Linked DNA regions of Homo sapiens: all the other regions are reported to be linked to region 6. Evidence: microRNA targets listed by miRTarBase, many of them from high-throughput screens and not tested one by one. Region 6 holds a microRNA gene; each other region holds the end of a gene's coding sequence.

Region 1 (4,087 bases), not on the chromosome of region 6:
GCGGAGGCAACCCCTCTTGGTGCCAACAGTCCCCACTTCTCAAGGGCACATCTGTCTGGGGGTAGGCTGGGCCCTTGGCGCTCATGGAAAGCACATCTCTCCTCTAGCGGGTTCCTGCTCTTTGTACTACCAGGGAGCGCCCCGGCAGATCCATCCTCTTCTGGTGGCCTGTACTGCACCAACAAATGATGAGCTGCCACTCCCAAGAGCTCCATCTGTCACTCACTCTCCTTCACTCTCCTAACAGTCTCACCAAGGGGCAATGCTATCCTTCCAGTAACGGCATCCGGGACACAAAATTCCCCTCCCAGAGGAATGGATTAACTCCAATATTATCTAACACAGAGATCTTGTACCCTTTAAACCACATCCAGCAACTCCATGAATTTGTGTGGAGGCCAACAATAGCCTAAGAAATACATCACGATCTTGCTAATGCTTCTGCGCTAGTAACTTTACGAACCTGTAACCTATGATTTCTGGCTAAGATTACAAATTGCCCTTAATCCAGCGTGCCTATGGAACCTAAGAACTTGTACTGTATGGGGCAAAAAGATCCCTGGGTTACCATAAATGATATCTTCCACAGTATAAGCTGAGGCTACAGTTCATTCTTTTGGAAATCACATTTAAGGGATGGCCGAAAAAATATGTGTAAAATATGCAAAAAACAAAATCAATAACCTTGAACCCTGGTGTCTAAGCTCCCAATCTCAGCCACCCCAGAGGCTGCCCAAAGAGCCTGGCCAAGACAAAACGAGGCTGACCAAAAACCCTCGCCATGTCAATCTGACATTCAAGGGTAGACTGAAGGTGGCCCAGTGTAGTGGCCAAGAACACTGAGCCACTGGCCTTAGGAGTGTGGGGGATGCAGGGCGCCCCGAGCAGGAGCAGTGAGGGGAGGAGTGGGACAAGCAGTGTGCCTCCACCAAGGGACTCGCCTAGAAAATGGGATGTCAGTAAAGGAGCTGTGCAGGGACGGGGAAGACTGGGGCTGGTGACAAGGTGACAGACTCCATCTTTATGTACATTTAAATTACGCAAATACTATGTCATGTCATACACAGGACTTTATAATTTATCCTACCACAGATTGAGCATCCCAAATCCCAAATCTGAGATACTCCAAAATCTGGAACCCAAGACAAAGAAAATGCTCACGGGAGGATTCCAGATTTGGAATGCTCAACCAGAAATAAATCTAAATTATCCTAAGTTGCAGAAATGATGTAATAGGTATTTTCAACCACGAGAATGTAGTATTCATCTGTCCTAAATAAAACCAATATCCTGGGTGAAGACTGCTAGAGGGAATAGAGTCCGCATAGAACACTCTCTCAAGACCGGTGTCATGACCCAGTGCCTTGCTGGAGGGGAGTAGGCCATGCACCTGACTCTGGGAAGAGCTGCCTCCCCCGTGCCTTGAGGGCACAGCCCCCTCTGGGAAGGAAGGCAGCATGTGGCCCACCCCTGCCAGGCTTTGGTGCTCACACAGCACACTGGAGCTTCTGCAAGTGACTGACAGGAGTTTTAGAAGTGAATTTTACATATGAGAGACACCAATTGTTTTTAGCTTGTGACACATGCCGAAAAAAAAAAAACTACACCTAAACTCCCAAACTGAAGCGTCCTTTATCTCATGTCACAAATTTTAATGATGGTTGAGTCATTAATCAATGCTAAGATTATCAAGGGAGGAGGAGTTGGCATTTTAAAAGGTACCAACTAATAGGAAAAAAATCTCATCTCTCATGGGACCATTTAAAAGGTGGGGTTTGAACAGATAACACTCGACCTGAGAAAGGCAACAAAGACATGCCGCTGAAACACACTCGACCATAGCTGCGCTGGCGAAGAAGCCCCAAGTGCCCAGAGCCCTATGGCTGAAGAGGCAGCAGCCTCAGTGGGACACTCCTCGGGGGTTGCTGCTGTTGCACCCTGCCCTTCTCTTCCAGGGAGGCATACTGAAATACGGATAGGTGGCACGCATCGAGGATTCTCTTCAAAAGAGCTGGTGGCATGGGAGGGGTGGCGTGGGAGAGTGGGTGAGGGTACAGGTGGAATAAGAGTGGCTAAGTTCTTCAGACATGCGGGGACAACAGGAATTAATGGCAGCTAGACATAATTTTAAACATACAGCCATATTCTGAAACCTGGCCCTGGAAAACAAAATCGTTCCAAGAGCTGCATCCGCCCTATGTACCATCAGTTTCCCATGAAAGCAGCCTACATGAGGAAGACAGGGAGGCGGTGGCGCTAAGACCTCAAGGACGTCTGGTCTATGGGCTGCCAGGATCATGCTGATGTTCTGTGACGAGACCCTTAAAAACGGAGTGCCTACTTATCCTGGCATGCAGAGGCCCTGCTATGGTTGTGGGGTTCCTCATGGCACCTCTTGTCCCCACCTCTCTGCTTTCTCCCACTACATCCCGAGTGCCACGAGTGAACAGGTCTCGTCACGGGCAAGAGCCTCTGTCTACTTACGGCCTCCTGTCAGCATTCCAGGACAGGGCAGAGCTACAGGGACTGAAGAAAGTGGAGTGGGAAACAGCTTCCAGGCTTACTGACACTCACTTTCATCTACAACTGGTTCTTGCTTCATTCAACTAGCACCAACCTCACAACAGTACTTTTTACTGCTGACACCAAAACAGATGCCAGTTCATGTTTCAGATAAAAAATGCTGGCACAGTAAAAGCTGTTACCCCTCTGTGTACCTATTGGTCTGCACAAAACATGAATTCAAAAAGTATAGATATTCAACAGACACGTGTTGGTAATGACAGTGGGCCAATTTCAACTGCCAGTGTGTGTTCTGAGCACAGCTGGGACAGCCCAGTGTGTTATGCTCTCTGCAAGGACTGCTTGCTTATGGTGGCCCGTGTGTGCCACCGTGCAGACTGCTGACCATCCAGGGCCCTCTTACTGGAAAGCAGTACCATCAGCAATGAAAATTACACCCAAGTTACATCTTTGCTACTTGGTTAGCAAGAAACACTGGGCTCAGAAAGCAGGGACCAAATCTAGGTTTGGTTCGTTGATTTTAAAAGTACATGTAACAGACACCTATGTCAAACCTGTGACACAGTGAGTGTACCTGGACAGCAACTCCCTCTTTATTCAAAGTCAAAACAATGCATTGTATAAAGTATAGATCAGAAGTTTGGAAGTTAGGTATGAATGGAATTCCACCTTACCTAGAAACGTATGAATGATTAACAGACAAAAATTACACCTAAATGGGGAAAAAAATTGAAAGGAACTGTCAGCATGAAAGAAAATGAAATGCACAAAATTATACAGGAGGAAACGGCCACAATTTCTCATGATACAAAAGGGCTGCAAGATACTGAACTCGGGGTGAACAACTTCAACACTAGATCATACTTTCAAAATGGGCAGAAGCATGATTTTCACTTCTATCAGACTGCTCCCAATACTAAAACCTCCCTTCCTTCCTTGTTTTCTTTTGCTTGCACAGACTCTAACACTGCCCATCTCTCTGGAAGGTGCATGTGACAGGGACAGCAGGCTTGGCCTTATCCTGGCCACACATGCCGGGCCGTCTCTGAACTTCATTCACACCATTAGCCGGAACATGTTTTTAGTCCCTTCTCCCCCAACCAACATAACCGTTTATCAAAGGTTTCATGGGGTGTTAGCATGTGTAATCCACCACATCATGTTCTCTGTAATGGCTGGTGAGAATGCTCTTTTAGAAACCTGGGACGTGAAAGGAGACTCAAGGTTCTCCAAGGTGACAGAGAAAGCAGAACAAACAACAGAGGGGAGGAAAAGAGAAGCTGAGGCACAGAATACAGGGAGGGGGAGATACAAGTGCAACAAGGACAGAGGCAGCTGTGCGCGGAGTCTGAGGAGGTGGCCCTGCCAATTGACCCCAGTCCTTGCTTTACAACTGCAACCTTAAAAGTGTCCATTCAGCGCCCACAAGGCGGAAACACAGCCCAATAAACACACGTGGCCCTTGGGTCCATCAGACACCCCGCACAGCAGTGATGGGCAGCATTTATTCACCCAACGTTGTTCACTGGCTGACTGACAGCCCTCACCTTCCCTGTCCGCACAC
Region 2 (4,105 bases), not on the chromosome of region 6:
CAGGTTCTTTGCAGTTTTTTGTTGCTCACAGCAGTCCTTTAAGATGTTATCCCCACTGAAGCTCAGACAGAGTGGGCAGCTTGGCCCTGGTCTTACAGCTGATGGGCAGTGCAGCCAGGATTCTGGCCCTGACAGTGTGGCTCCAGCTCCACACAGTGCCCTCAGAAGCCTATGCCTCAGCTCTCCACACAATGAAATGTACCAGGCACCCATTATTGGATGCCTTCCAGCTCCCCTTTTGATTTTTTCACCTTCCTCTCCCACTTCCTCTTCCCAGTTAACTGCTTCTTAGCCTCCAAGGCCCGCCCACGTGCCAGGCACTGTTCTAGGACAACATGATGGAATAACCCCTGCTATCACGGAGTCCACATTCCAGCAGGTCCTGAGGCCCAGAGCAGAGCTCAGAAGCTCCTGCGTCTCCAGCCTTCCCCCGTCCTGGACAGAGAAGGCTTCTCAGATGGGGACCCATGCCCCTGACAGGGTCTAAAGGAAAGGAGAGGCACGGGGCTGGGTACAGGGAGCCTTGGAGATTTGGGAGTCCAACCTGCCTGCCTATCAGCCCAGGTCTGATGGTGGATTCCCAACCTGACACCAAGCTCAATGTTCCTGTCCCTTCCAACCCTCCTTTTGCTGTGGTCTCCACCTCACAGGCTGTTGGAGCTGGGAAAGAACCCCAGAAATGATCCAATGAATACACCTCATTTTGTAGATGGAGAAGGTCAGACCCAGAAAGGGCAAGCAATTAGCCCAGATCACACAGCCAAGCAACAGAGCCTGGATGAGACTCAGGGCTCCCAACTACCCTGCCAGAGCTCCCTGCTGAGCCCCTCTGCTGCCTCCCTCCTCGCTGGTCTGCCAGGGGGCTACCCACACCTCTGAGAATCACCCAACGCCCAGAGCTGGGAGAGGGCAGGAGACAAGGGAGCATGGGCCAGGACTGTCTGGGTCTGAGAGGAACAGAAGTGGATATAGAGCCTTGCCCCCCTCCTTCCTCCCTAATAGGAGGATTAAACCTCCTATTCTCACTCATGCTGGGGACAGAGGCATTCTCAAGAACTGGGAAGAAAGGATTTCCCTGATTGCTTTATAATCACAGCTCAGACGATAATGGACCTGGTGGGGATTGATGGGGAGAGTGTGATGCTCAGCGACGTCCCCGCCCAGTTCCCAGCACAGCCCTGGGCCTCCTGACACAGCGGTCTTCCCAACATCCCACCAGCCAGCCTCTGTGCAGCAGGTGCAGCCCCTGGTGCAGCCCAGGCATGGGACAGGCAAGGGCCTGGCTGCCCCCACAGGGGAATTTAGCCAGACCTGGTGTCCCATCCAGTTCCCCTTCTCTGGAGCTGGTAGGCTTAGGGCAGGGCCTGGAGAACTGGGAGCCTCTCGTGGCCAGGGTCTTTCTGAGAGTCCGGGCATCTCTGGAGCCCAGGAATGGGTCCTTATCACCATCACAACCCCAGGGTCCTCAAGAAGGGCCAGGAGGCTGCAGGGCACGGTGCCCACAGAGGTGGACCTGCTGGGGCACCACGTAGGGAACCAGCACCCAGGGCAGGGGGCTGTAGGGAGCAGCAACTAACCCCAGGGACACTCTGCAGTCCCAGCTCCCAAGGGAGAACACCACCCAGGTGGCCAAAGCATGTGGGTCCAACTTGTGGTCTCTCTTCTTGACAGTGCTGGAAGGTCCTCCATGGACACACTTGGCCCCTTCTCCTTCCTTTCCTTTCTCACCCTTACCCTCCTGTCTCCCCCTTCTCTCTCTTCTCTGCCATTTCTCCCTCACTTTCTCAATCCCAAGAGCCCCTTCGTGGCAAGCCTGGCTGCTTGGCTCCTAAAGCTCCCTGGCCCAGCAGCGTGGAGAGGAGGAAGGAAGAGTGTTGTCCCTCCACGATGGACCAGCAGCCAGCTTGCTTAGGGACTTTTACTAGGACAGAGGGACTGCTCCCCTGATGTCATCAGGCCCCTGGTGGGGAGCAGAGTGAGGAAGAACAGTGAGAACAGAGGGGCCCGGGTGTCCCTGCCACACCAGGAAAAAGAATGTGGTTGTTTGACACCCTCTTCCCTCTCTACCATCATGCCTCCTCCTGGCTTGCTCACCTCTTCCAGGAAGACTTCCCTGACTCTCCTTCCAGGCTTCTCTGAGTTTCCAGGGACTGGAAGGCCTTTTCCCTTTCCTCCGTCCCCCAAGCCCAGGATGATGCTGTCTTCAGGAGCCTGACCCTCCTGCCAGCCTCAAAGGGGAGCTCTCCTTCCCAGAAGGCCCTCTGTGCACTGAGAAGGCCCTCAGGTCTGAAGCCTCCAGTGGACTTCCACTCCAGCCTGCGTCTGAGCACCAGAGTGCTTGGCTCCCAGCCACTTCTGGGCCCTTCTCCCCCTGGGAACTCTAGGGTGGGCCGGCCAGAAGGTCTGAGCATGGCAGAAGGTATTGAGCATATCCCCAGGCCCACACCCCACTGTCATTCTCCCTGTGTTCATTGTTAGCCAAGGCGTGCCTCCCTGAGGCCCAGGTTCCTGCACTGCACCCCCTGTGTCCCAGACAGGGTGAGGGAGGTCAAGGGAGTTTCAAAGGAGCCACGTTTCTGAGAGGAGAGCAGGAAGATGACCGTGCCTTCATCAGAGGGAAAAAGTGCATTCAGAAGAACTGCAGCCTGTTCCTCTGGGGACCCTCAGGGAAATGGTCATTCAATACAAGAGAAGTGACAGACCAATGGTTTATTCCAAAGGGGAAAGCCCAAGCTGGATGTCTCCCTCCCCAACCCCTGCAAGCTGGCCCATCCTTCCAGAGCCCCCATAGGCCTGGGGCTGTTGAGACGGGAGATGTCCCCACTGTGCTGCTCCTGGTTTTGTCTCCTCTCCAATCCTTGAGCACCCTGATATGCAACATGGGGGGTAATCAGAAGGAGGAGGCAGCCTCTGATGGGGCAACGGCTGAGGGTGGGGGCAGTGTGTAAGGCACCTTTTGCGGTCAGCCCAGCCACACTCCATCGCCAGAGAGAATGCCAAAGTGTAGACTGAATGAAATTCTGTAGGCAAATGGTAAATGGTAGCTGGGCCAGTAGCTATTTGCATGGGTGGATTATATCATGTTAAGGGAATTCTTTATCTCAGCAGAGGGAACAGAGGAATATCTTGGCTAAGGTCATCCTGCCAGTCAGGAGAAGCCACCCTCCAGGGACCACAGACTCAAAGTGGCTGTGGTGGAGACCCACCGCCTGGGTAGGGTGATGTCAAGACACTGAGAGGTTTCCATCTGCAGTGGCCAAGGGCTGCAGGTTCTGCCATGCTGGGCATTGATAGGTAGGACGAGAGAGAGCACGTAGGGCCAGTCCTCTGGGAAGCAGGAGGTGGGCCATGTGAATGGGAGATGGGTGGCTGTGCTGTCCAGGCATCTGCTGACAACATTGGGGGATAGGGCCTTGGAGAGAAACGTCTATAGGCCTGGAGACAGCAGGGCGTGGGCGGGAGAGGCAGGCTGATACCATGCGGGTACTCACTGCTAGCCCCCAGATCCAGCCCGAGAGGAGGAGGCTGGCGGGTTAGGGCAGGCCCCAACCTATCTCACCCCTGTGATGGGTTGGCCTCTGAGCACAGGAATGATGGTGACCATCTGAGGTCACAAGGCAGGAAAGGAGTCTGAATGGAGTGTGGCCAGTGGGGAAGTCGGAGAGGCCGGAACTGCCCCCAAGAGGCTGGCAGAGGGCTGCAGAGGGCAGGTGCAGGACCAGGCTCCCTCCCACCCAGACAAGCACAGTAGCTTAGAAGGCAAGAGCAGCAGGGTCAGGAGGAAGAGCAGGGGTGTGGCGCCTCGTTCCTTCCGCCAGGAGCTCATGGGGCTTCGTTGGACCCAATCCCGTTGCCTTTGTTGACGTAGAATGGCCGGTAGTGAGACTGTGGGGGAAACAAGAGTGGTCAGCGAGGCCAGACGACAGATGAGCCTGCTAGCTAGACCCACCCTACCCTAACCTGCCTCAGGAGGCAGCAGTGATCCAAGACCCGACAATTCTAGGGGCCTTTTTGGCCTGATCTGCAAGATTTACCTACCCTGTGATCAGGGGCTGGTCCCTAATGTCAGGATCTCCAGATTGGAATCCTAATTGGAGTCCATTCC
Region 3 (4,105 bases), not on the chromosome of region 6:
GGGTGATTCCCACTAACATGGGGCTTGAAACAAAACCCACTCTGGGCCACGAGAAGCGAGGGTCCACCAACCTAATGCCAAAGGGCACTGCACCCTTATTTCACAAGTAAGCAAGAGTTTCCAGAAAAATCTGCAAGGGAGGGCTGGGCGCGGTGGCTCACGCCCGGAATCCCAGTACTTTGGGAGGCCGAGGCAGGTGGATCACGAGGTCAGGAGGTCGAGACCATCCTGGCTAACATGGTGAAACCCCGCCTCTACTAAAAAATACAAAAAAATCAGCTGGGCGTGGTGGCGGGCGACTGTAGTCCCAGCTAGTCGGGAGGCTGAGGCAGGAGAATGGTGTGAACCGAGGAGGCGGAGCTTGTAGTGAGCTGAGATCATGCCATTGCACTCCAGCCTGGGCAACAGAGCGAGACTCCATCTCAAAAAAAAAAAAAAAAAAAAATCTGCAAGGGAGCTAATGTTTCAGTAGGATCCTCTTGAGGGGACCTGGTTTTTGGCTACAGCATCAGCTCAGGTGTTGGGAAGAAAAACTCATTATCGTGCATCAGACTCAAGAGCTCAGTGGCAGTCCCCAGACTTCCAGTGGGGATGTGGAGAAAGAACCCGGCAAGTAAGAAGCACTGCTTGGGCGGGCGTGGTGGCTCACGCCTGTAATCCCAGCACTTTGGGAGGCTGAGGCAGGTGGATCATGAGGTCAGGAGATCAAGACCATCCTGGCTAACAGGGTGAAACCCTGTCTCCACTAAAAATACAAAAAAAATTAGCCGGGTGTGGTGGCGGGTGCCTGCAGTCCCAGCTACTCAAGAGGCTGAGGCAGGAGAATGGCATGAACCCGGGAGGCGGAGCTTGCAGTGAGCCGAGATCGAGCCACTGTACTCCAGCCTGGGCAACAGAGTGAGACTCCATCTCAAAAAAAAAATAAAAAAGAAGCACTGCTTGTGATTCCCTTCAATCCTTGGTTGACTTTGGGGCGTTTCCAGAACACTGACTGCGTTGCAATTCAGCACAGCTCCTAAAAGCCAGACTCTGGTCCAAAAGCAAGTTAAGATGCTGATAACAGAATAGCCCTTTTTCTTTCAGCCCTTTGCCCCCATAACTTCCTCTTAACACTCAACATTTCAAGCCTTGATTGAGAGATAACTGCCAACCTAAGATCTCTTTTCACCACTCCAAAGCAAAGCAATTGTGATCTTGTCATATCAACCAGATAAATCCAACTTAATGGGAATGCTTGGTGGCCAAGGACAAGATGCCAAGAGCAAAGCACTGGGTTGGCAGAGTTTAAGTTACTTAATAACATCCAACGCCAACATTAAGTCAGGAATCGTTGGGCATTTGGTAGAGAATTATGAATTAAAGATTATAAAACTGGCATTGAAGCAATGGTCTTATCCAATGGGGAAAATCCTACGGCTCCCAGTTCCCTTTGAAGCCAGGCCACACATGGCAAACTCTAAACACATCACTTCCTGGAGGAGATGCCAGGCTGCTTCAACTCGAGATCAAGTACCTGCCGTGTGCATCACAAACATCCAGCAAGTACATAACCCCTGCCAGACTCCTCTGCTCCTGGAGTAGCACAAAGACTCAATCTCTGGTTTCCCCTGCAGGCAGATGAAATGAAGAGGATGTCTTGGGTGGATGAGCACGATCTCATTTCCAAAGAGAACTTAGATGAATGGAAAACACTGGCATGCTGCACGTCCACTGCTTGCATTCGACTGAATGCCAAGTCCTCCTAAGAAACACCTGCCCAGCCTGGCGCGGTGGCTCACGCCTGTAATCCCAGCACTTTGGGAGGCCAAGTCGAGCAGATCACCTGAGGTCAGGAGTTCGAGACCAGCCTGGCCAACATGGTGAAACCCTGTCTCTACTTAAAATACAAAAATTAGCCAGGTGTGGTGGTACGCACCTGTAATCCCAGCTACTCAGGAGGCTGAGGCAGGAGAATCGCTTGAACCCGGGAGGTGGAGGTTGCAGTGAGCCGAGATTACACCATTGCACTCCAGCCTGGGGCCAAGAGCGAGACTTCATCTTAAAAAAAGAAAAAAAAAAAAAAGAGAGAAACATCTGCCCAAAGAACACCCATAATCATTTCACTTCCATTCTTGACCACTATACAGTATGCTGAGTACAGTATGCCAGTGTACCTGTCCTCAATACAGTAACCTTCCATGAGACATTGTTCCCAAAACATTGGCCCCTCTTAATGTCAATAAACTGTCCCTCAGACATTTCCCAACACCTCCAGGGTGGGGAGGATGATTCTATCCCTCTGCAGTTGAGAGACACTGATGACAGCATAAGGCCTGGGGTAGCTGAACAGTGTCGCTAGGGAGAAAAGGTGAAACTTCAGGTTCCTCCCCAACAGCACACAAAACTTGCCTGCTCAGGGCATTAACCAAGCCACAGTCAAGCCATAAATCAGCTCTGCCCTAATTCCATTCACCCAAAAGACTTTAAAACAAAAGCAAAAACAAAAACCTATAGCCAGACTTTCAGATTCTAACAAGAATACTTTTATTATACACGTATCATACACACAACAATTATTTGGGGAACATTTACAGGCAGAGAGTTCAATTCCAAATCTCCATTTCACCCACACACACTGTACTGCACACTCACCTTAGGGTTCAGCCCAACAGGAACGAGACAAAGTTATTGCTTTCTGAACAGAGAGTTTCAATTAAATAGAATCTTCCAAGCCAAGAACAGAGCCCAGCATCCTCTTAATTCTTAATACCCTGTATATATATGAATAAAACCTTATGATGTGTTATAGATTACCCCATCACCATTAAAAGTTAATATTAAAATTGGATCCCATGTCTCAAAAAAGTCGTAAGAAGTGCACCAGTATTTACAGACCCCATTAAATTACGCATAAATAAAATCTGTACACTCAACGCACTGTTTCTTAAAATACAGAACCTCCACGGGGACTTGGGGGTGACAAGCAGCAACAAATTGCTTCGTGCCTACCCTTTTCAAGTTTACTCGAAACATCTGAAATAAATATGCAAATAAAGCTTCAGTACCTTAAAGGAACATGTCATTTCAAAGAGTCTCCCATTTGAAGAGTTAACTTTCAAAGTTAAAAAAAAAAAAAAAAAAAAAGGAGAAAAAAATCAATCAGCAGGCTTCGTTTCTACAAGTTTCCTAAAACCAGAAGGCCCCCGTTTGAACACGGGGTTTAGAGTGTGTCAGATACCACTTATTAACTAGTTGCTAAGCAGATAGAACCTTTGCCTCCTACCAGAGGACTTGATCTCTGAAGAAGCTAGATACACACTTTTCTTTTTTTCAAGGTAAATATTTAGCGGACACAAAAACCAACCATTACCTTAACACTGAAAAAAAAGGTATTGTTGATCTGTTGATCTAGGGCACATCAATTTGACATTTCAATGGCTAAGTGTGTGGGTCTGTTGGCCCAGGGAATGTATTTAAAAGATTCTAAAACTTATAGCACCACTTTCAGAGAAGGAAAGAATGGGGTTCAAAAAAAAAAAGCTTAATGAATAAAGAGCCAGTACTTGTCACCTTCTGATAATAGGTCCAAAGTTAGGAGATAGCTCAGCGCTAGAGAAACAACTAAGAAGTCCAGGGGCGGGTGATGCAGAACCAGTGAAGGCTCTTTAAATAGTAAGGTAGGTAACAAACTCTTCCCCCAGGCCAGGAGGGGTTCCCAGTCTGTGCGGTGGAGAAGGATTTTTGCAGTCCTGTTCCTTCCCTACTCTCCTAACCTTTCTTCGTTCCAATTTTATTTCCTGTGTTTCTCCATTTTCTCCAGGGTTTTGTTAGAATCAGCTGGACTCTGGTCTCCAGGGTTCATGTAGGATTTGTCTATGACAATCAGGGCTTCTTTGATGTAGTTCTGCAGGGCAGACACCGCGGCACAGATGGCCTGGCTGCCAAACCCGTGGGTAATCAGGCTGAAATGAGACAAGCAGTTCTGTATGTTCGTCTCCAAGACTGGGGCGAGCCTGCTGGTCCCATGGGGTGTCCGGTCTTGGCTGAGAAGTTCTGTGAATTCTTTACACAGTTGCCTGTGAAGACAGTCAGTTGACTCGATGAGTTCCATCTAGCTCCTTACAGG
Region 4 (4,105 bases), not on the chromosome of region 6:
CGTCACGTGCACGCCTGGCACCATGCCTGTGCGTAGTTCTCAAGTTAGAGTGACGACTGGGTTACGGATGCTGAGCGTATTAAAATGAACCAACGTGAATATGGTGTGTGTGGGAGGGTGGCGGCTTGTCACCCACCCAGGACGGCCTGTCTCCCTGGAGAGAAACTGCGGAGGGAACTGGGAAGGCCTTGGGGCCCAAGGGTATGCAGAAGGACCCAGGCTCCTGCTGAGGCTCTCCTCTCCCGGGACAGGCGGTGGAGGGCAGCGTCCTGGTCAGCTCCTCCTCTGACCATTCCTTGACCGTCTGGAAGGAGCTGGAGCAGAAGCCCACCCATCACTACAAGTCAGCATCCGACCCCATCCACACCTTTGACCTGTACGGCAGCGAGGTGGTCACTGGCACCGTGTCCAACAAGATTGGCGTCTGCTCCCTGCTTGAGCCACCCTCGCAGGCCACCACGAAGCTCAGCTCTGAGAACTTCCGCGGCACGCTCACCAGCCTGGCCTTGCTGCCCACTAAACGCCACCTCCTGCTGGGCTCAGACAACGGGGTTATCCGCCTCCTGGCATAGACTGAGGCAGGAGCTGGCCGGGCAAGGGTGGGAAGACATCTGCGGGCGCGTGTCCACTCACCCTGTTCCCTGAGCAGCAGCTCCCTCCAGGGAGGCCCTGGGTCCCACGCCCTGGGTGCCCACATGGCCTGCCAACTAGGGCCTGCAAATGGAGTGGGGGAGTCCTGGCCCCTGAATCACCAGAGCCACCAAGCCTGCCAGAGGGGTCTCATTCATGGCTTGGGGACACAGGGCTCCTAGCAAGCAGGAAGTTAAGAGCAGGAGGAAGCGTTGCTACCTTCACTTCTCCCCAGCTCTGCCCTCTGGGTCCACATGAGGACAGGGAAGCTCGGGAAGGGGAAGGGAGACTGGCCCTGCCCAGCCGGTCTCTAGCCCCTCAGCCCCCGCTGGGCACTCTCTGTCCCATCCCTCTAGGACAGGGAAGCTGGCCTGGTCCAGGGCACTGATGGTGCTTGGATTCCAGCCTAAGGAAGGCTGGCCGTGGTCCAGGAGTTAAGGGCTTGGGTCTGGGGTTTAAGTGGCCACCCATCCAGGCCCTGGCCAGTGTGGGACCGGGACGGGAAGGAAGAAGGAGGCTAGGAGCAGGGGGAAAAGGTGCACTTGGCCAGTGGCGCCTGCCAGGAGTGAGTCCATGCGTTGTCTGCCCACCCCTACCACAGTGTTTGTGCCTTCAGCTGAGGGGGCAGCCTCTGGGCCCTGAACCCCTGCTGGGGCTCCACGACCCTGAGAGAAGGGGTGAGAAGAATCATCTCTGCACCTCGGGTCTCTGCCAGAGGAAGACTTAAGCATCCCTGCGACCTCACATTCTAGACAGAGATGAGGTCCAGGGGTTGGCCCCTGCTGCCTTCTCACAATTTGCAATAGATGTAAATAGGACCAATAAATCCTTTGGAAGAGCCATGGGGTGAACTGAGGCTTGTCTTTTTTTTTTTTTTCAATAGAGATGGAGTCTGACTATGTTGCCCAAGCTGGTCTCCAACTCCTGGGCTCAAGCGATCCTCCTGCCTCGGCCTCCCAAAGTGTTGGGATTACAGGCATGAGCCACCACGCCCAGCCTGAGGCTTATCTTGCTGGTGGTGTCAGGGTGGGGAAAGTCGAGACCCAGCAGTTTCCAGGACAGTGAGGGTGGGAAGGGGCCTGATGGAGGGAGTGAGGAGCAGGACAGTGAGGGTAGGAGGCGGCCTGATGCAGGGAGTGAGGCGCAGGACAGTGAGGGTGGGAAGGAGCCTGATGCAGGGAGTGAGGCGCAGGACAGTGAGGGTGGGAAGGAGCCTGATGCAGGGAGTGAGGCGCAGGACAGTGAGGGTGGGAAGGAGCCTGATGCAGGGAGTGAGGCGCAGGACAGTGAGGGTGGGAAGGAGCCTGATGCAGGGAGTGAGGCGCAGGACAGTGAGGGTGGGAAGGAGCCTGATGCAGGGAGTGAGGCGCAGGACAGTGAGGGTGGGAAGGAGCCTGATGCAGGGAGTGAGGCGCAGGACAGTGAGGGTGGGAAGGAGCCTGATGCAGGGAGTGAGGAGCCGGACAGTGAGGGTGGGAGGCGGCCTGATGCAGGGAGTGAGGCGCAGGACAGTGAGGGTGGGAAGGAGCCTGATGCAGGGAGTGAGGCGCAGGACAGTGAGGGTGGGAAGGAGCCTGATGCAGGGAGTGAGGAGCAGGACAGTGAGGGTGGGAAGGAGCCTGATGCAGGGAGTGAGGAGCCGGACAGTGAGGGTGGGAAGGAGCCTGATGCAGGGAGTGAGGAGCAGGACAGTGAGGGTGGGAAGTGGCCTGATGCAGGGAGTGAGGAGCAGGTGTGAGGGCGGGAAGCGGCCTGATGCAGGGAGTGAGGCGCAGGACAGTGAGGGTGGGAAGGAGCCTGATGCAGGGAGTGAGGCGCAGGACAGTGAGGGTGGGAAGGAGCCTGATGCAGGGAGTGAGGCGCAGGACAGTGAGGGTGGGAAGGAGCCTGATGCAGGGAGTGAGGAGCAGGACAGTGAGGGTGGGAAGTGGCCTGATGCAGGGAGTGAGGCGCAGGACAGTGAGGGTGGGAGGCGGCCTGATGCAGGGAGTGAGGCGCAGGACAGTGAGGGTGGGAAGGAGCCTGATGCAGGGAGTGAGGCGCAGGACAGTGAGGGTGGGAAGGGGCCTGATGCAGGGAGTGAGGCGCAGGACAGTGAGGGTGGGAAGGAGCCTGATGCAGGGAGTGAGGAGCCGGACAGTGAGGGTGGGAAGGAGCCTGATGCAGGGAGTGAGGAGCAGGACAGTGAGGGTGGGAGGTGGCCTGATGCAGGGAGTGAGGAGCCGGACAGTGAGGGTGGGAAGGAGCCTGATGCAGGGAGTGAGGCGCAGGACAGTGAGGGTGGGAGGCGGCCTGATGCAGGGAGTGAGGCGCAGGACAGTGAGGGTGGGAAGGAGCCTGATGCAGGGAGTGAGGAGCAGGACAGTGAGGGTGGGAGGCGGCCTGATGCAGGGAGTGAGGCGCAGGACAGTGAGGGTGGGAAGGAGCCTGATGCAGGGAGTGAGGCGCAGGACAGTGAGGGTGGGAAGGAGCCTGATGCAGGGAGTGAGGCACAGGACAGTGAGGGTGGGAAGTGGCCTGATGCAGGGAGTGAGGCGCAGGACAGTGAGGGTGGGAAGGAGCCTGATGCAGGGAGTGAGGAGCCGGACAGTGAGGGTGGGAAGGAGCCTGATGCAGGGAGTGAGGCGCAGGACAGTGAGGGTGGGAAGGGGCCTGATGCAGGGAGTGAGGCGCAGGACAGTGAGGGTGGGAAGGAGCCTGATGCAGGGAGTGAGGAGCAGGACAGTGAGGGTGGGAGGCGGCCTGATGCAGGGAGTGAGGAGCCGGACAGTGAGGGTGGGAAGGAGCCTGATGCAGGGAGTGAGGAGCCGGACAGTGAGGGTGGGAAGGAGCCTGATGCAGGGAGTGAGGCGCAGGACAGTGAGGGTGGGAGGCGGCCTGATGCAGGGAGTGAGGCGCAGGACAGTGAGGGTGGGAAGGAGCCTGATGCAGGGAGTGAGGAGCAGGACAGTCAGGGTGGGAGGCGGCCTGATGCAGGGAGTGAGGCGCAGGACAGTGAGGGTGGGAAGGAGCCTGATGCAGGGAGTGAGGCGCAGGACAGTGAGGGTGGGAAGGAGCCTGATGCAGGGAGTGAGGCGCAGGACAGTGAGGGTGGGAAGTGGCCTGATGCAGGGAGTGAGGCGCAGGACAGTGAGGGTGGGAAGTGGCCTGATGCAGGGAGTGAGGCGCAGGACAGTGAGGGTGGGAAGGGGCCTGATGCAGGGAGTGAGGCGCAGGACAGTGAGGGTGGGAAGGGGCCTGATGCAGGGAGTGAGGAGCCGGACAGTGAGGGTGGGAAGGAGCCTGATGCAGGGAGTGAGGCGCAGGACAGTGAGGGTGGGAAGGGGCCTGATGCAGGGAGTGAGGCGCAGGACAGTGAGGGTGGGAAGGGGCCTGATGCAGGGAGTGAGGAGCCGGACACTGAGGGTGGGAAGGAGCCTGATGCAGGGAGTGAGGCGCAGGACAGTGAGGGTGGGAAGGGGCCTGATGCAGGGAG
Region 5 (4,105 bases), not on the chromosome of region 6:
TTTATTCAGATTTCCTTCCTTTTACTTAATGCCTTTTTCTGCTGCAGGTTTCCATTCAGGATACCACATTATATTTCGTTGTCATGTCTTAGACTACTGTTAATGACAGTGTCTCAGCCTTTTATTTTTATTTTAGCTGGAGTGCAGTGGCATGATCTCAGCTCACTGCAACCTCTGCCTCCCAGGTTCAAGCGATTCTCCTGTCTCAGCCTCCTGAGCAGCTGGGATTACAGGCACACACCACCATGCCCGGCTAATTTTTGTATTTTTGGTAGAGACGGGGTTTCACCATGTTGGCCAGGATGGTCTTGATCTGACCTCATGATCTGCCCGTCTCAGCCTCCCAAAGTGCTGGGATTACAGGCGTGAGCCACCGCGCCTGGCCTCAGCTTTTTATTTTTGATGACCTTGATAGTTTTGAGGAGTACTGGCCAAATCTTTGGTGGGCTGGCCCTCTATTGGGATTTGATGTTTTTCTCAGGATTAGACAAGCGTTATGGCGTTTTGGAAGGAAGATCACAGAGGTAAAGTGCTATGCTCATCACATCCTACCAAGGAAGGGTTCTTACTGTTCAACGTTACTTACCACTGTTGGTGCTGACTTGATCACTTGACTGAAGTAGTGTTTGTCAGGTCCCCCCACCCCTCTTTTCTCTACTGTACTCTTTGGAAGGACGTCCCCATGCACAGCCCACACGTAAGGAGTCGGGGATTTTGCTCCACCTCCTTGGGGGCAGAGTATCTACAGAAATTATTTGGAATTCTGCATGGGAGATTTGTTTCTTCTCCCCCATGTATTCAATCATTTATATCAGTGTGGACCATTGTTATTTTATCCTTTGTTATACTACAGTACTAATTTTTTTTTCAAATTGTTCTCATTTTGGCCACTGGGAATTTGAGTGGTTCCTTGTGCTCCTTTGACATACACCCAGTGTATATACCAGCTTATTTGGGTTTGAGTGCCTCTTTCCTTTCTGACACTACAGGATACTCCGGGCTCATCTTGTATTTCCTGCCCCAGTCCTAGAATCCTATTTTCTACGAGGAACCCTGATTCCTTTCATTGTAAAATGGCATTAGAAACTGGCTGGGCATGGTGGCTCATGCCTGTAATCCAGCATTTTGGGAGGCTGAGGCAGGTGCATCACCTGAGGTCAGGAGTTTGGGACCAGCCTGACCAATATGGTGAAACCCCATCTCTACTGAAAATACAAAAAAATTAGCTAGGCATGGTTGCGTGTGCCTGTAGTCTCAGCTACATGGGAGGCTGAAACAGGAGAATTCCTTGAACTTGGGAGGTGGAGGTTGCAGTGAGCCGAGATCGCACCACTGCACTCCAGCCTGGGTGACAGAGCGAGACTTCGTATCAAAAAAAAAAAAAAAAAAAAAAAAGAGAAACCAAGGTCTGGGTGCTAGGTGTGCTTCTTGCTATTGAGATGTCATTTCTTTCAGTCTCAGCTGACAGAAAAAAATGTGTGTATATACTGTTAAACACACACATATCTATAAATATTTTTATAGGTAAACATCTGTACCTATATTAAGCTAAACATGAGCTCGTGCTGACATCTCCAACTCTAATCCATTACACAGATCATTGGAGCCTCCTCCCCTTGTTTATCTGTGAATTCCCACCCCAACAGTGAGAGAACCAGCTCCCTCCATCTGGCAGCCACTTTTAAGCTGGATAAAAGATTACTCATTTTCTAGCAAAGGGAACTCTGGCAAGTGAGAACTGTTGACCATCCACTTATTTGCCTGTTCATCCCATAAACACGTGTTGCGTTGCTGTGTGCCAGATGTGCTAGGCCTTTAGTATTCATCTTGGGTTACCCCTGCACATCGCTGGGACCTGTAAATGTTTGTTGAAATATCCTGAAAATATTTTTTAAGTTTCGACTTTTTCGTATTGGATTTAAAATACTTTTGTGCACCTGTTACAAGCCAAACACTATAGGGATCATTCATAGTTTTGAGGACTGCCTATCTGTCAGATTATGGGCTATGCCCTGGGGATTCAAATTTAAAAATTAGGCACACATGGTTCCTGCCTTCACTGACCATATTCAAGTGGAGGAAAAAAAAAAATCTCCATTTTACAGATGAGAAAACTGAGGCTAAGAGTGAAAAGGATCTGTCCAAGGACACAAGTAGTAAGCTGCGAGGTGGGCTCAGATCTGACTCCTGGGCCAAACCACTGTAACCACAATACCTGCTCTAAATCCACCCAGAAGTCAGCCAATCTGCTCTTTCCTCTTTTGGACCCCTGTGGATGCCTCAGGAAAAATGAGGGCACAGGTAAGAAGGTACTTGACAGCAGGTTGCAGCATGTCTATGCTGCAGTGGTCCAATCATAGCTCACTGTTTGAAATAAATGAGAAAATCCATCTCAGTAATTCAGTTTTACATTTAGGCTACCCAAACCATGGGCTTTAAAAACATTACCTGATGCTGGTATAAGAAACATAATACAAACAATAAGGTTGGATTCATTTTGAAATTTAATAATTCTAATAGTAATAAGAAACATAGTTTATGCTTTTTTTTTAATGAAAACAAACAAGTAATTTTGTAAAAGTCAGAAAACACCAGTATCCTTCTGATCTCATCCTGGATTTTTCTGTCAGCTGGAGGATGCATTTCTGACCCCATCCCAGACACGTGAAAGCAGAAGACATGATGCATCTATAATAATGAAAGCACAATCTAAAGAGTATTATCACACCGTGAACAGCTTCTTCCTGACCCAGAGCAAATATTAAGAGAAAGACAATATATTTACAAACAAGATTTAATAATGCTCACAAGAATAGAGTTTGCCCCCAAATGGAAAATTACACATTATTTTGTTTCAAAAAGTTATAAATTTAGTGCTTGAAAAATCCAGCAGGTAAGTAGAAGGACTAACAGGGTCTGTTTCTGGAACTGTCCGCCAGCAAATGAGCATGCTCTGTCCTGGAAGCCATTTTTCTTTTTCTTTTTTTTTTTTTTTTTTTTTTTTGAGACAGAGTTTTTTGCTCGTTGCCCAGGCTGGAGTACAAAGGTGCAATCTCGGCTCACCACAACCTCCGCCTCTTGGGTTCAAGCAATTCTCCTGCCTCAGCCTCCTGAGCAGCTGGGATTACAGGCATGTGCCACCACGCCTGGCTAACTTTTCTGTATTTTCAGTAGAGACTGGGTTTCTCCATGTTGGTCAGGCTGGTCTCAAACTCCCGACCTCAGGTGATCCGCCCACCTCGGCCTCCCAAAGTGCTGGGATTACAGGCAGGAGCCACCACGCCCGGCCAGGAAGCCATTTTTCATGGGAGGGATATAGGGAGAGGAAGGCGATATTTACATCCCACTCTGCACAACTCAGTACCGCCTATTCATTTTCTTGAACTTCTCATAATGATAGTCATCAGTTGCCTTCTCGTTAGCAGGACGCTTGCGGTTAGGAGGGGACCCTGAGAAGGAAAAGAACAGGAAAGGTGGTTTGCCATGCTGGAACCCACTGCTAGACTTTACTCCATGCAGGCAAAGACAACTGCCTGTTTCCTTCCCCACAGGAGCCCCAGCGCCTAACCCAGTGAACACAGTAGGGCCTCAGTAGATACGTATTTGTCTTTTTTTTTTTCTTTTCTTTTCTTTTTTTTGAGATGGAGTCTCACCCTGTTGCCCAGGCTAGAGTGTAATGGCATGATCTCAGCTCACTGCAACCTCCAACTCCCGAGTTCAAGTGATTCTCCTGCCTCAGCCTCCTGAGTAGCTGGGATTACAGGCACCTGCCACCTCACCTGGCTAATTTTTGTATTTTTAGTAGAGACGGGGTTCACCATGTTGGCCAGGCTCGTCTTGAACTCCTGACCTTAGGTGATCTGCCTGCCTCTGCCTCCCAAAGTGCTGGGATTACAGGCATGGGCCACCGAGCATGGCCAATACCTTTTTCTTTTCTTTAAAAAAAAGATGTGGTCTCACTCTGTCACGCAGGCTAGAGTGCAGTGGTCCAATCATAGCTCACTGCAGCCTTGAACTCTTAGTCTCAAGCAATCCTCCTGTCCCAGCTTCCCCAGCAGCTGAGACTACAAGTGTGAGGCACTGCACCCAGCTAACCTTATGAGTA
Region 6 (4,000 bases):
TGTGAAACTTGTTTAAGGTAAATGTGAGAATTAATAAAGGAATTGAGAAGAAAGATATTTGATCGTTTTTTGAATAACATTTACCTAATTAAGAAGTTAACTACTTTTCTGAGGCATCTTTTTTATCCCTCTCCGTTTTCCTCCTCCCAAAAGAAGTTGTTCTTGATTTTAAAAGTTTGATAAATTAACAAGGTTGAAATTTGAATATGATATACATTGAATTAAGATTTGTTCAGGGCTTTCTTAATTCAGTTCTCAAGTATGAATTTCTCAGGTCTGAATTTTTTAGGTAGAAAATTCTCAAGTATGAATTTCTTTTCTAGCAATTGCAGAGCCTGTTTTTGCTGTGGTCAAAGCTGACTGATAGACTGTGGTTTAAGTCAACTTATTCAAAAATGTCTTCAACCCTGCTGGTCGAGACAAGAAATCTTTATGGGGTAGTTGGAGCTGAAAGCAGGTTAGGCACCTATTAAAACATCACAGAACAGGTTAGATTGTGGTTTGAAGAACTGGATATTCCCCAATGTTTTAACTGAGTTTATGTGCCTAAGTCTTCAAAATGGGGTTTATAGTATCAAGTGAGGCTGTTTGGTTCTTCTGAAAACACACTCATTTTCTGACACATGGCTAGACTTTATGCCAGGTACATGCTATTTTTGAAAAGCTCTTTTTTAAGAGGTAACTGTTTATTAAAACAATCTGTTTCACCAAATATGTTAGCCCTGTAAAATTGACATTTACAAAAGTTTGAAGAAAACAAATTTGGGAAAGTTAATAATTCGCCTTTCTATCTTCAAGGATTCAAATTGACCGTTTTTTCTCCTTTTTTTGTCTTTTAACTTACTGTAATTATGCCCCAATAGTTCGGGTGCAGTGGCTCACGCCTATAATCCCAGCACTTTGAGAGGCTGAGGTGGGAGGATTGTTTGAGTCCAGGAGTTTGAGACCAGCCTGGGCCTCATAGCAAGACCCCTGTCTTAAAAAAAAAAAAAAAAAAAAGTCCCAATCATTTTAAGTGCAGTTTGGTGTACCTCTTGGCCATCAATTTTGTTAAAAACTCTGATTTTCCCAAAGTATTGGGAGAATATATACTGATAAGTAATATATGCTGTATATCTTCAATTAGAAGTGAAGAACTAAAAAGCCTCTTTAAAATTTAGTTATACTTTTTAATAGCTACCGATTTTATCTTTTTTTATCACTTACTATTTTTGTTAGATGTTTTCCTAAAATGTTATCTTATTCTATCTTAACAAAATTTTCTAAGTTACATGTTGACAGGTTTCACATCTAGTAACTGAGTCACTCAACACAAAGCTTTTAATTGCTTAGAGATCTTCAGAGATATCTATCTAGATATGTTACTTCCGCAGATTTCCAAAATCTAGTAATTCAGGGAAAAAACTTGGTTCAGAATTATGAAATGCTGACATGAAATGATATTTGGGTGGGCTGTCCAGTCCCTCTTCCCTTTTTTTCTGTCTGTTTCTGCTTTTTTTCCTTAGGTCTGCACCTGTTCAGCATTTGGCAGGATGGCAAGCGGAGGAGCAGCAGGGTGAAACTGACACAGTTCTGGTGAGTTTCACTTTGCTGCTCCTCCTGATTCTCAGGGAAAGAATTTTGTTACTCCTATTGGAAAACATCCATCTCCAAATGAATCCTTAAGATAAGATGCGAATATTATTCCTTTAGGGTTGACTCAACTATTTGTATGTGTTCTAATTACTCCAGTCTGCAGCGGCTCTTTGTGTTGGAGTTGGGAGTTTCGCTGATCCAGATGACCTGCCGGGGCTGGCACACTTTTTGGAGCACAGTAAGAATTTGTAAAATATCATTCCTGGTGTGTTTTTTTCCCCCCTCCAAACTTATATGAATTGATATCAAAGATTAGCAAGTGATTTGACAGAAGTATGATATATTTAGCAAGAGAAAAGGCTAAGAAAAAATCCTTGATTTATGAATATCGTGGGGGAAACAATCTGAGTGTACTTATATTGAGAGTTAGAATGAAACCACACAGAAAACTTTTAAACTGTAGATGTCACTATTGTTGAGCTATGTTAAGGCCAACGGATCAGGAGATGATTGCCATTTTCTAGGAAATGACCAGTCCTGGGGAGGGCAGTCCCTTCCAGGGTTAGCAAGGCCCCCAGCCAAACATCAGAAATACAGGAATTCCCTGGGTGAGGTGGCTCACGCCTGTAATCCCAGCACTCTGGGAGGCTGAGGTGGGTGGATCACTTGAAGTCAGGAGTTCGAGACCAGCCTGGCCAACATGGTGAAACCCCATCTCTACTAAAAATACAAAAATTAGTTGGGCGTGGTGGCATACACCTGTAGTCCCAGCTACTTGGGAATCTGAGGCAAGAGAATCATTTGAACCTGGGAGGTAGAGGTTGCAGTGAGCTGAGGCTGTGCCACTGTACTCCAGCTTGGGTGATAGAGCAAGACTGTCTCAAAAAAAAAAAAAAAAAAACAAGAAACAAAAAAAACCTAGAAATTCAAAAGGCATGATTAATATAAAAACAAAACAATAGAAGCTTTTCATTTAATTTGGAATGTACCTAAATAAAACTTACACGGGGCCGGGCGCGGTGGCTCACTCCTGTAATCCCAGCACTTTGGGAAGCCAAGGCAGGTGGATCACCTGAGGTCAGGAGTTCGAGACCAGCCTGGCCAACATGGTGAAACTCCATCTCTACAAAAACACAAAAATTAGCCGGGCATGGTGGCGCACACCTAGAGTTCCAGCTGCTCTGGAGGCTGAGGCAGGAGAATCACTTGAATCCAAGAGGCGGAGGTTGCAGTGAGCCGAGATCACGCCATTGCACTCCAACCTGGGTGACGGAGCGAGACTCCAGCTCAAAAACAAACAAACAAACAAAAAAACTCTATGTGGATGTTATATAGTTACAAATATTTATTTTTATTTTACAAATATTTATTTTAAATTACTCTTTTTTTAATGGTCTGGTTTTCTAAAGTATTTGAGGGTATACTTCTTACTTTGTGAATTTTTATAGTAGCCATTAATCTGCATATGTTTGTGCTTAAATTTTAATCTCCTTAAATTTAATTGAAGAGATTAAGTTGTAACAGCAGTAGCAGTTAATCTGCATATATGTTTGTGAATTTGTTTGAATTTTAATCTAATTAATAAAAGGTGAATTTTAATCTATTTAGACTTAAATATATTTGTGATCTCTTTATAAGTTATATGTTCGTCTTATCTTTCTTTAAAGATGAAATTTTTTTTTTTTAGTATAAAAGTAACATGAGCATAATAGAAAGTTACAAAATCAAATGTAATGAAGAAAGTATTATTTAGGGTCAGGTGTGGTGGCTCACGCCTGTAATCCCAGCACTTTGGGAGGCCGAGGTGGGCAGATCACTTGAGGTCAGGAGTTGGAGACCAGCCTGGGCAACCTGGTGAAACCCCATCTCTACTAAAAATACAAAAAATTAGCCAGGCATGGTGGCAAGTGCCTGTAATCCAGCTACTTGGGAGGCTGAGACACTTGAACCCAGGAGGTTCAAGAATCACTTGAACCCAGGAGGCAGAGTTTGCAGTGAGCCAAGATTGCACCACTGTGCTCCATCCTGGGCAACAGAGTGAGACTCTGTCTCAAAGAAAAAAAAAAGAATTCAGACATAACCATTTGATGTGTTGGTCTATTTTCTTTCAGTTTTTCTATGCATATAAGAAAGTTCATGTGTGATAAAAATATTTTCTATATCTTTGTGTTGTGTGACTTTGTGTTCTTTCCATTTAGTGGTATTCATGGGTAGTTTGAAATATCCAGATGAGAATGGATTTGATGCCTTCCTGAAGAAGCATGGGGGTAGTGATAATGCCTCAACTGATTGTGAACGCACTGTCTTTCAGTTTGATGTCCAGAGGAAGTACTTCAAGGAAGCTCTTGATAGGTAACTAACTCTAAATATACTTTAATTTTAATGATCTAATGGCACTTTGCAAATGTAAATAGAGTGTTCTTGT

What was found. The annotated mature microRNA hsa-miR-761 reads GCAGCAGGGUGAAACUGACACA and lies in region 6 at 1,548-1,569, shown strand. An mRNA with a match to its seed (bases 2 to 7 or 8) in the 3' UTR can be bound and repressed. Matches are read on the target gene's strand: a 7mer-m8 pairs with bases 2 to 8, a 7mer-A1 pairs with bases 2 to 7 and ends in A, and an 8mer does both.
Region 1: miRTarBase lists NAP1L4 as a target of hsa-miR-761. The part of its 3' UTR that is shown has no 7-base or 8-base seed match.
Region 2: the mRNA of TRIM29 is a reported target of hsa-miR-761. Seed matches in the 3' UTR shown: 7mer-m8 at 3,767-3,773, 7mer-m8 at 3,443-3,449 and 7mer-A1 at 3,102-3,108.
Region 3: the mRNA of TFAP2C is a reported target of hsa-miR-761. Seed matches in the 3' UTR shown: 8mer at 3,139-3,146.
Region 4: the mRNA of WDR81 is a reported target of hsa-miR-761. Seed matches in the 3' UTR shown: 7mer-m8 at 1,276-1,282 and 7mer-m8 at 1,409-1,415.
Region 5: the mRNA of C9orf78 is a reported target of hsa-miR-761. Seed matches in the 3' UTR shown: 7mer-m8 at 2,888-2,894.

The regions. Positions count from the first base shown.
Region 1 is chr11:2,946,030-2,950,116 of GRCh38, forward strand. It overlaps NAP1L4 (nucleosome assembly protein 1 like 4), which reads right to left. Exons shown (of 16, transcript NM_005969.4): 15 at 3,198-3,235. The coding sequence ends at 3,230. Among named protein-coding and RNA genes, the nearest start is that of SNORA54, 16 kb to the right of the region's middle. RefSeq lists enhancers at 1-373, 374-987, 988-1,603, 1,604-2,217.
Region 2 is chr11:120,108,592-120,112,696 of GRCh38, forward strand. It overlaps TRIM29 (tripartite motif containing 29), which reads right to left. Exons shown (of 9, transcript NM_012101.4): 9 at 2,695-3,885. The coding sequence ends at 3,823. Among named protein-coding and RNA genes, the nearest start is that of TRIM29, 27 kb to the right of the region's middle.
Region 3 is chr20:56,637,678-56,641,782 of GRCh38, reverse strand. It overlaps TFAP2C (transcription factor AP-2 gamma), which reads right to left. Exons shown (of 7, transcript NM_003222.4): 7 at 2,500-4,055. The coding sequence ends at 3,770. Among named protein-coding and RNA genes, the nearest start is that of TFAP2C, 10 kb to the right of the region's middle.
Region 4 is chr17:1,737,114-1,741,218 of GRCh38, forward strand. It overlaps WDR81 (WD repeat domain 81), which reads left to right. Exons shown (of 10, transcript NM_001163809.2): 10 at 252-1,472. The coding sequence ends at 572. Among named protein-coding and RNA genes, the nearest start is that of SERPINF2, 3.7 kb to the right of the region's middle.
Region 5 is chr9:129,824,804-129,828,908 of GRCh38, forward strand. C9orf78 (chromosome 9 open reading frame 78) reads right to left here. Exons shown (of 9, transcript NM_016520.3): 9 at 2,487-3,449. The coding sequence ends at 3,358. Among named protein-coding and RNA genes, the nearest start is that of TOR1A, 2.7 kb to the left of the region's middle. RefSeq lists a silencer at 3,247-3,541.
Region 6 is chr1:51,833,944-51,837,943 of GRCh38, reverse strand. MIR761 (microRNA 761) reads left to right here and starts at 1,542; the gene lies at 1,542-1,600. NRDC (nardilysin convertase) reads left to right here. Exons shown (of 31, transcript NM_001101662.2): 3 at 1,732-1,813; 4 at 3,774-3,927.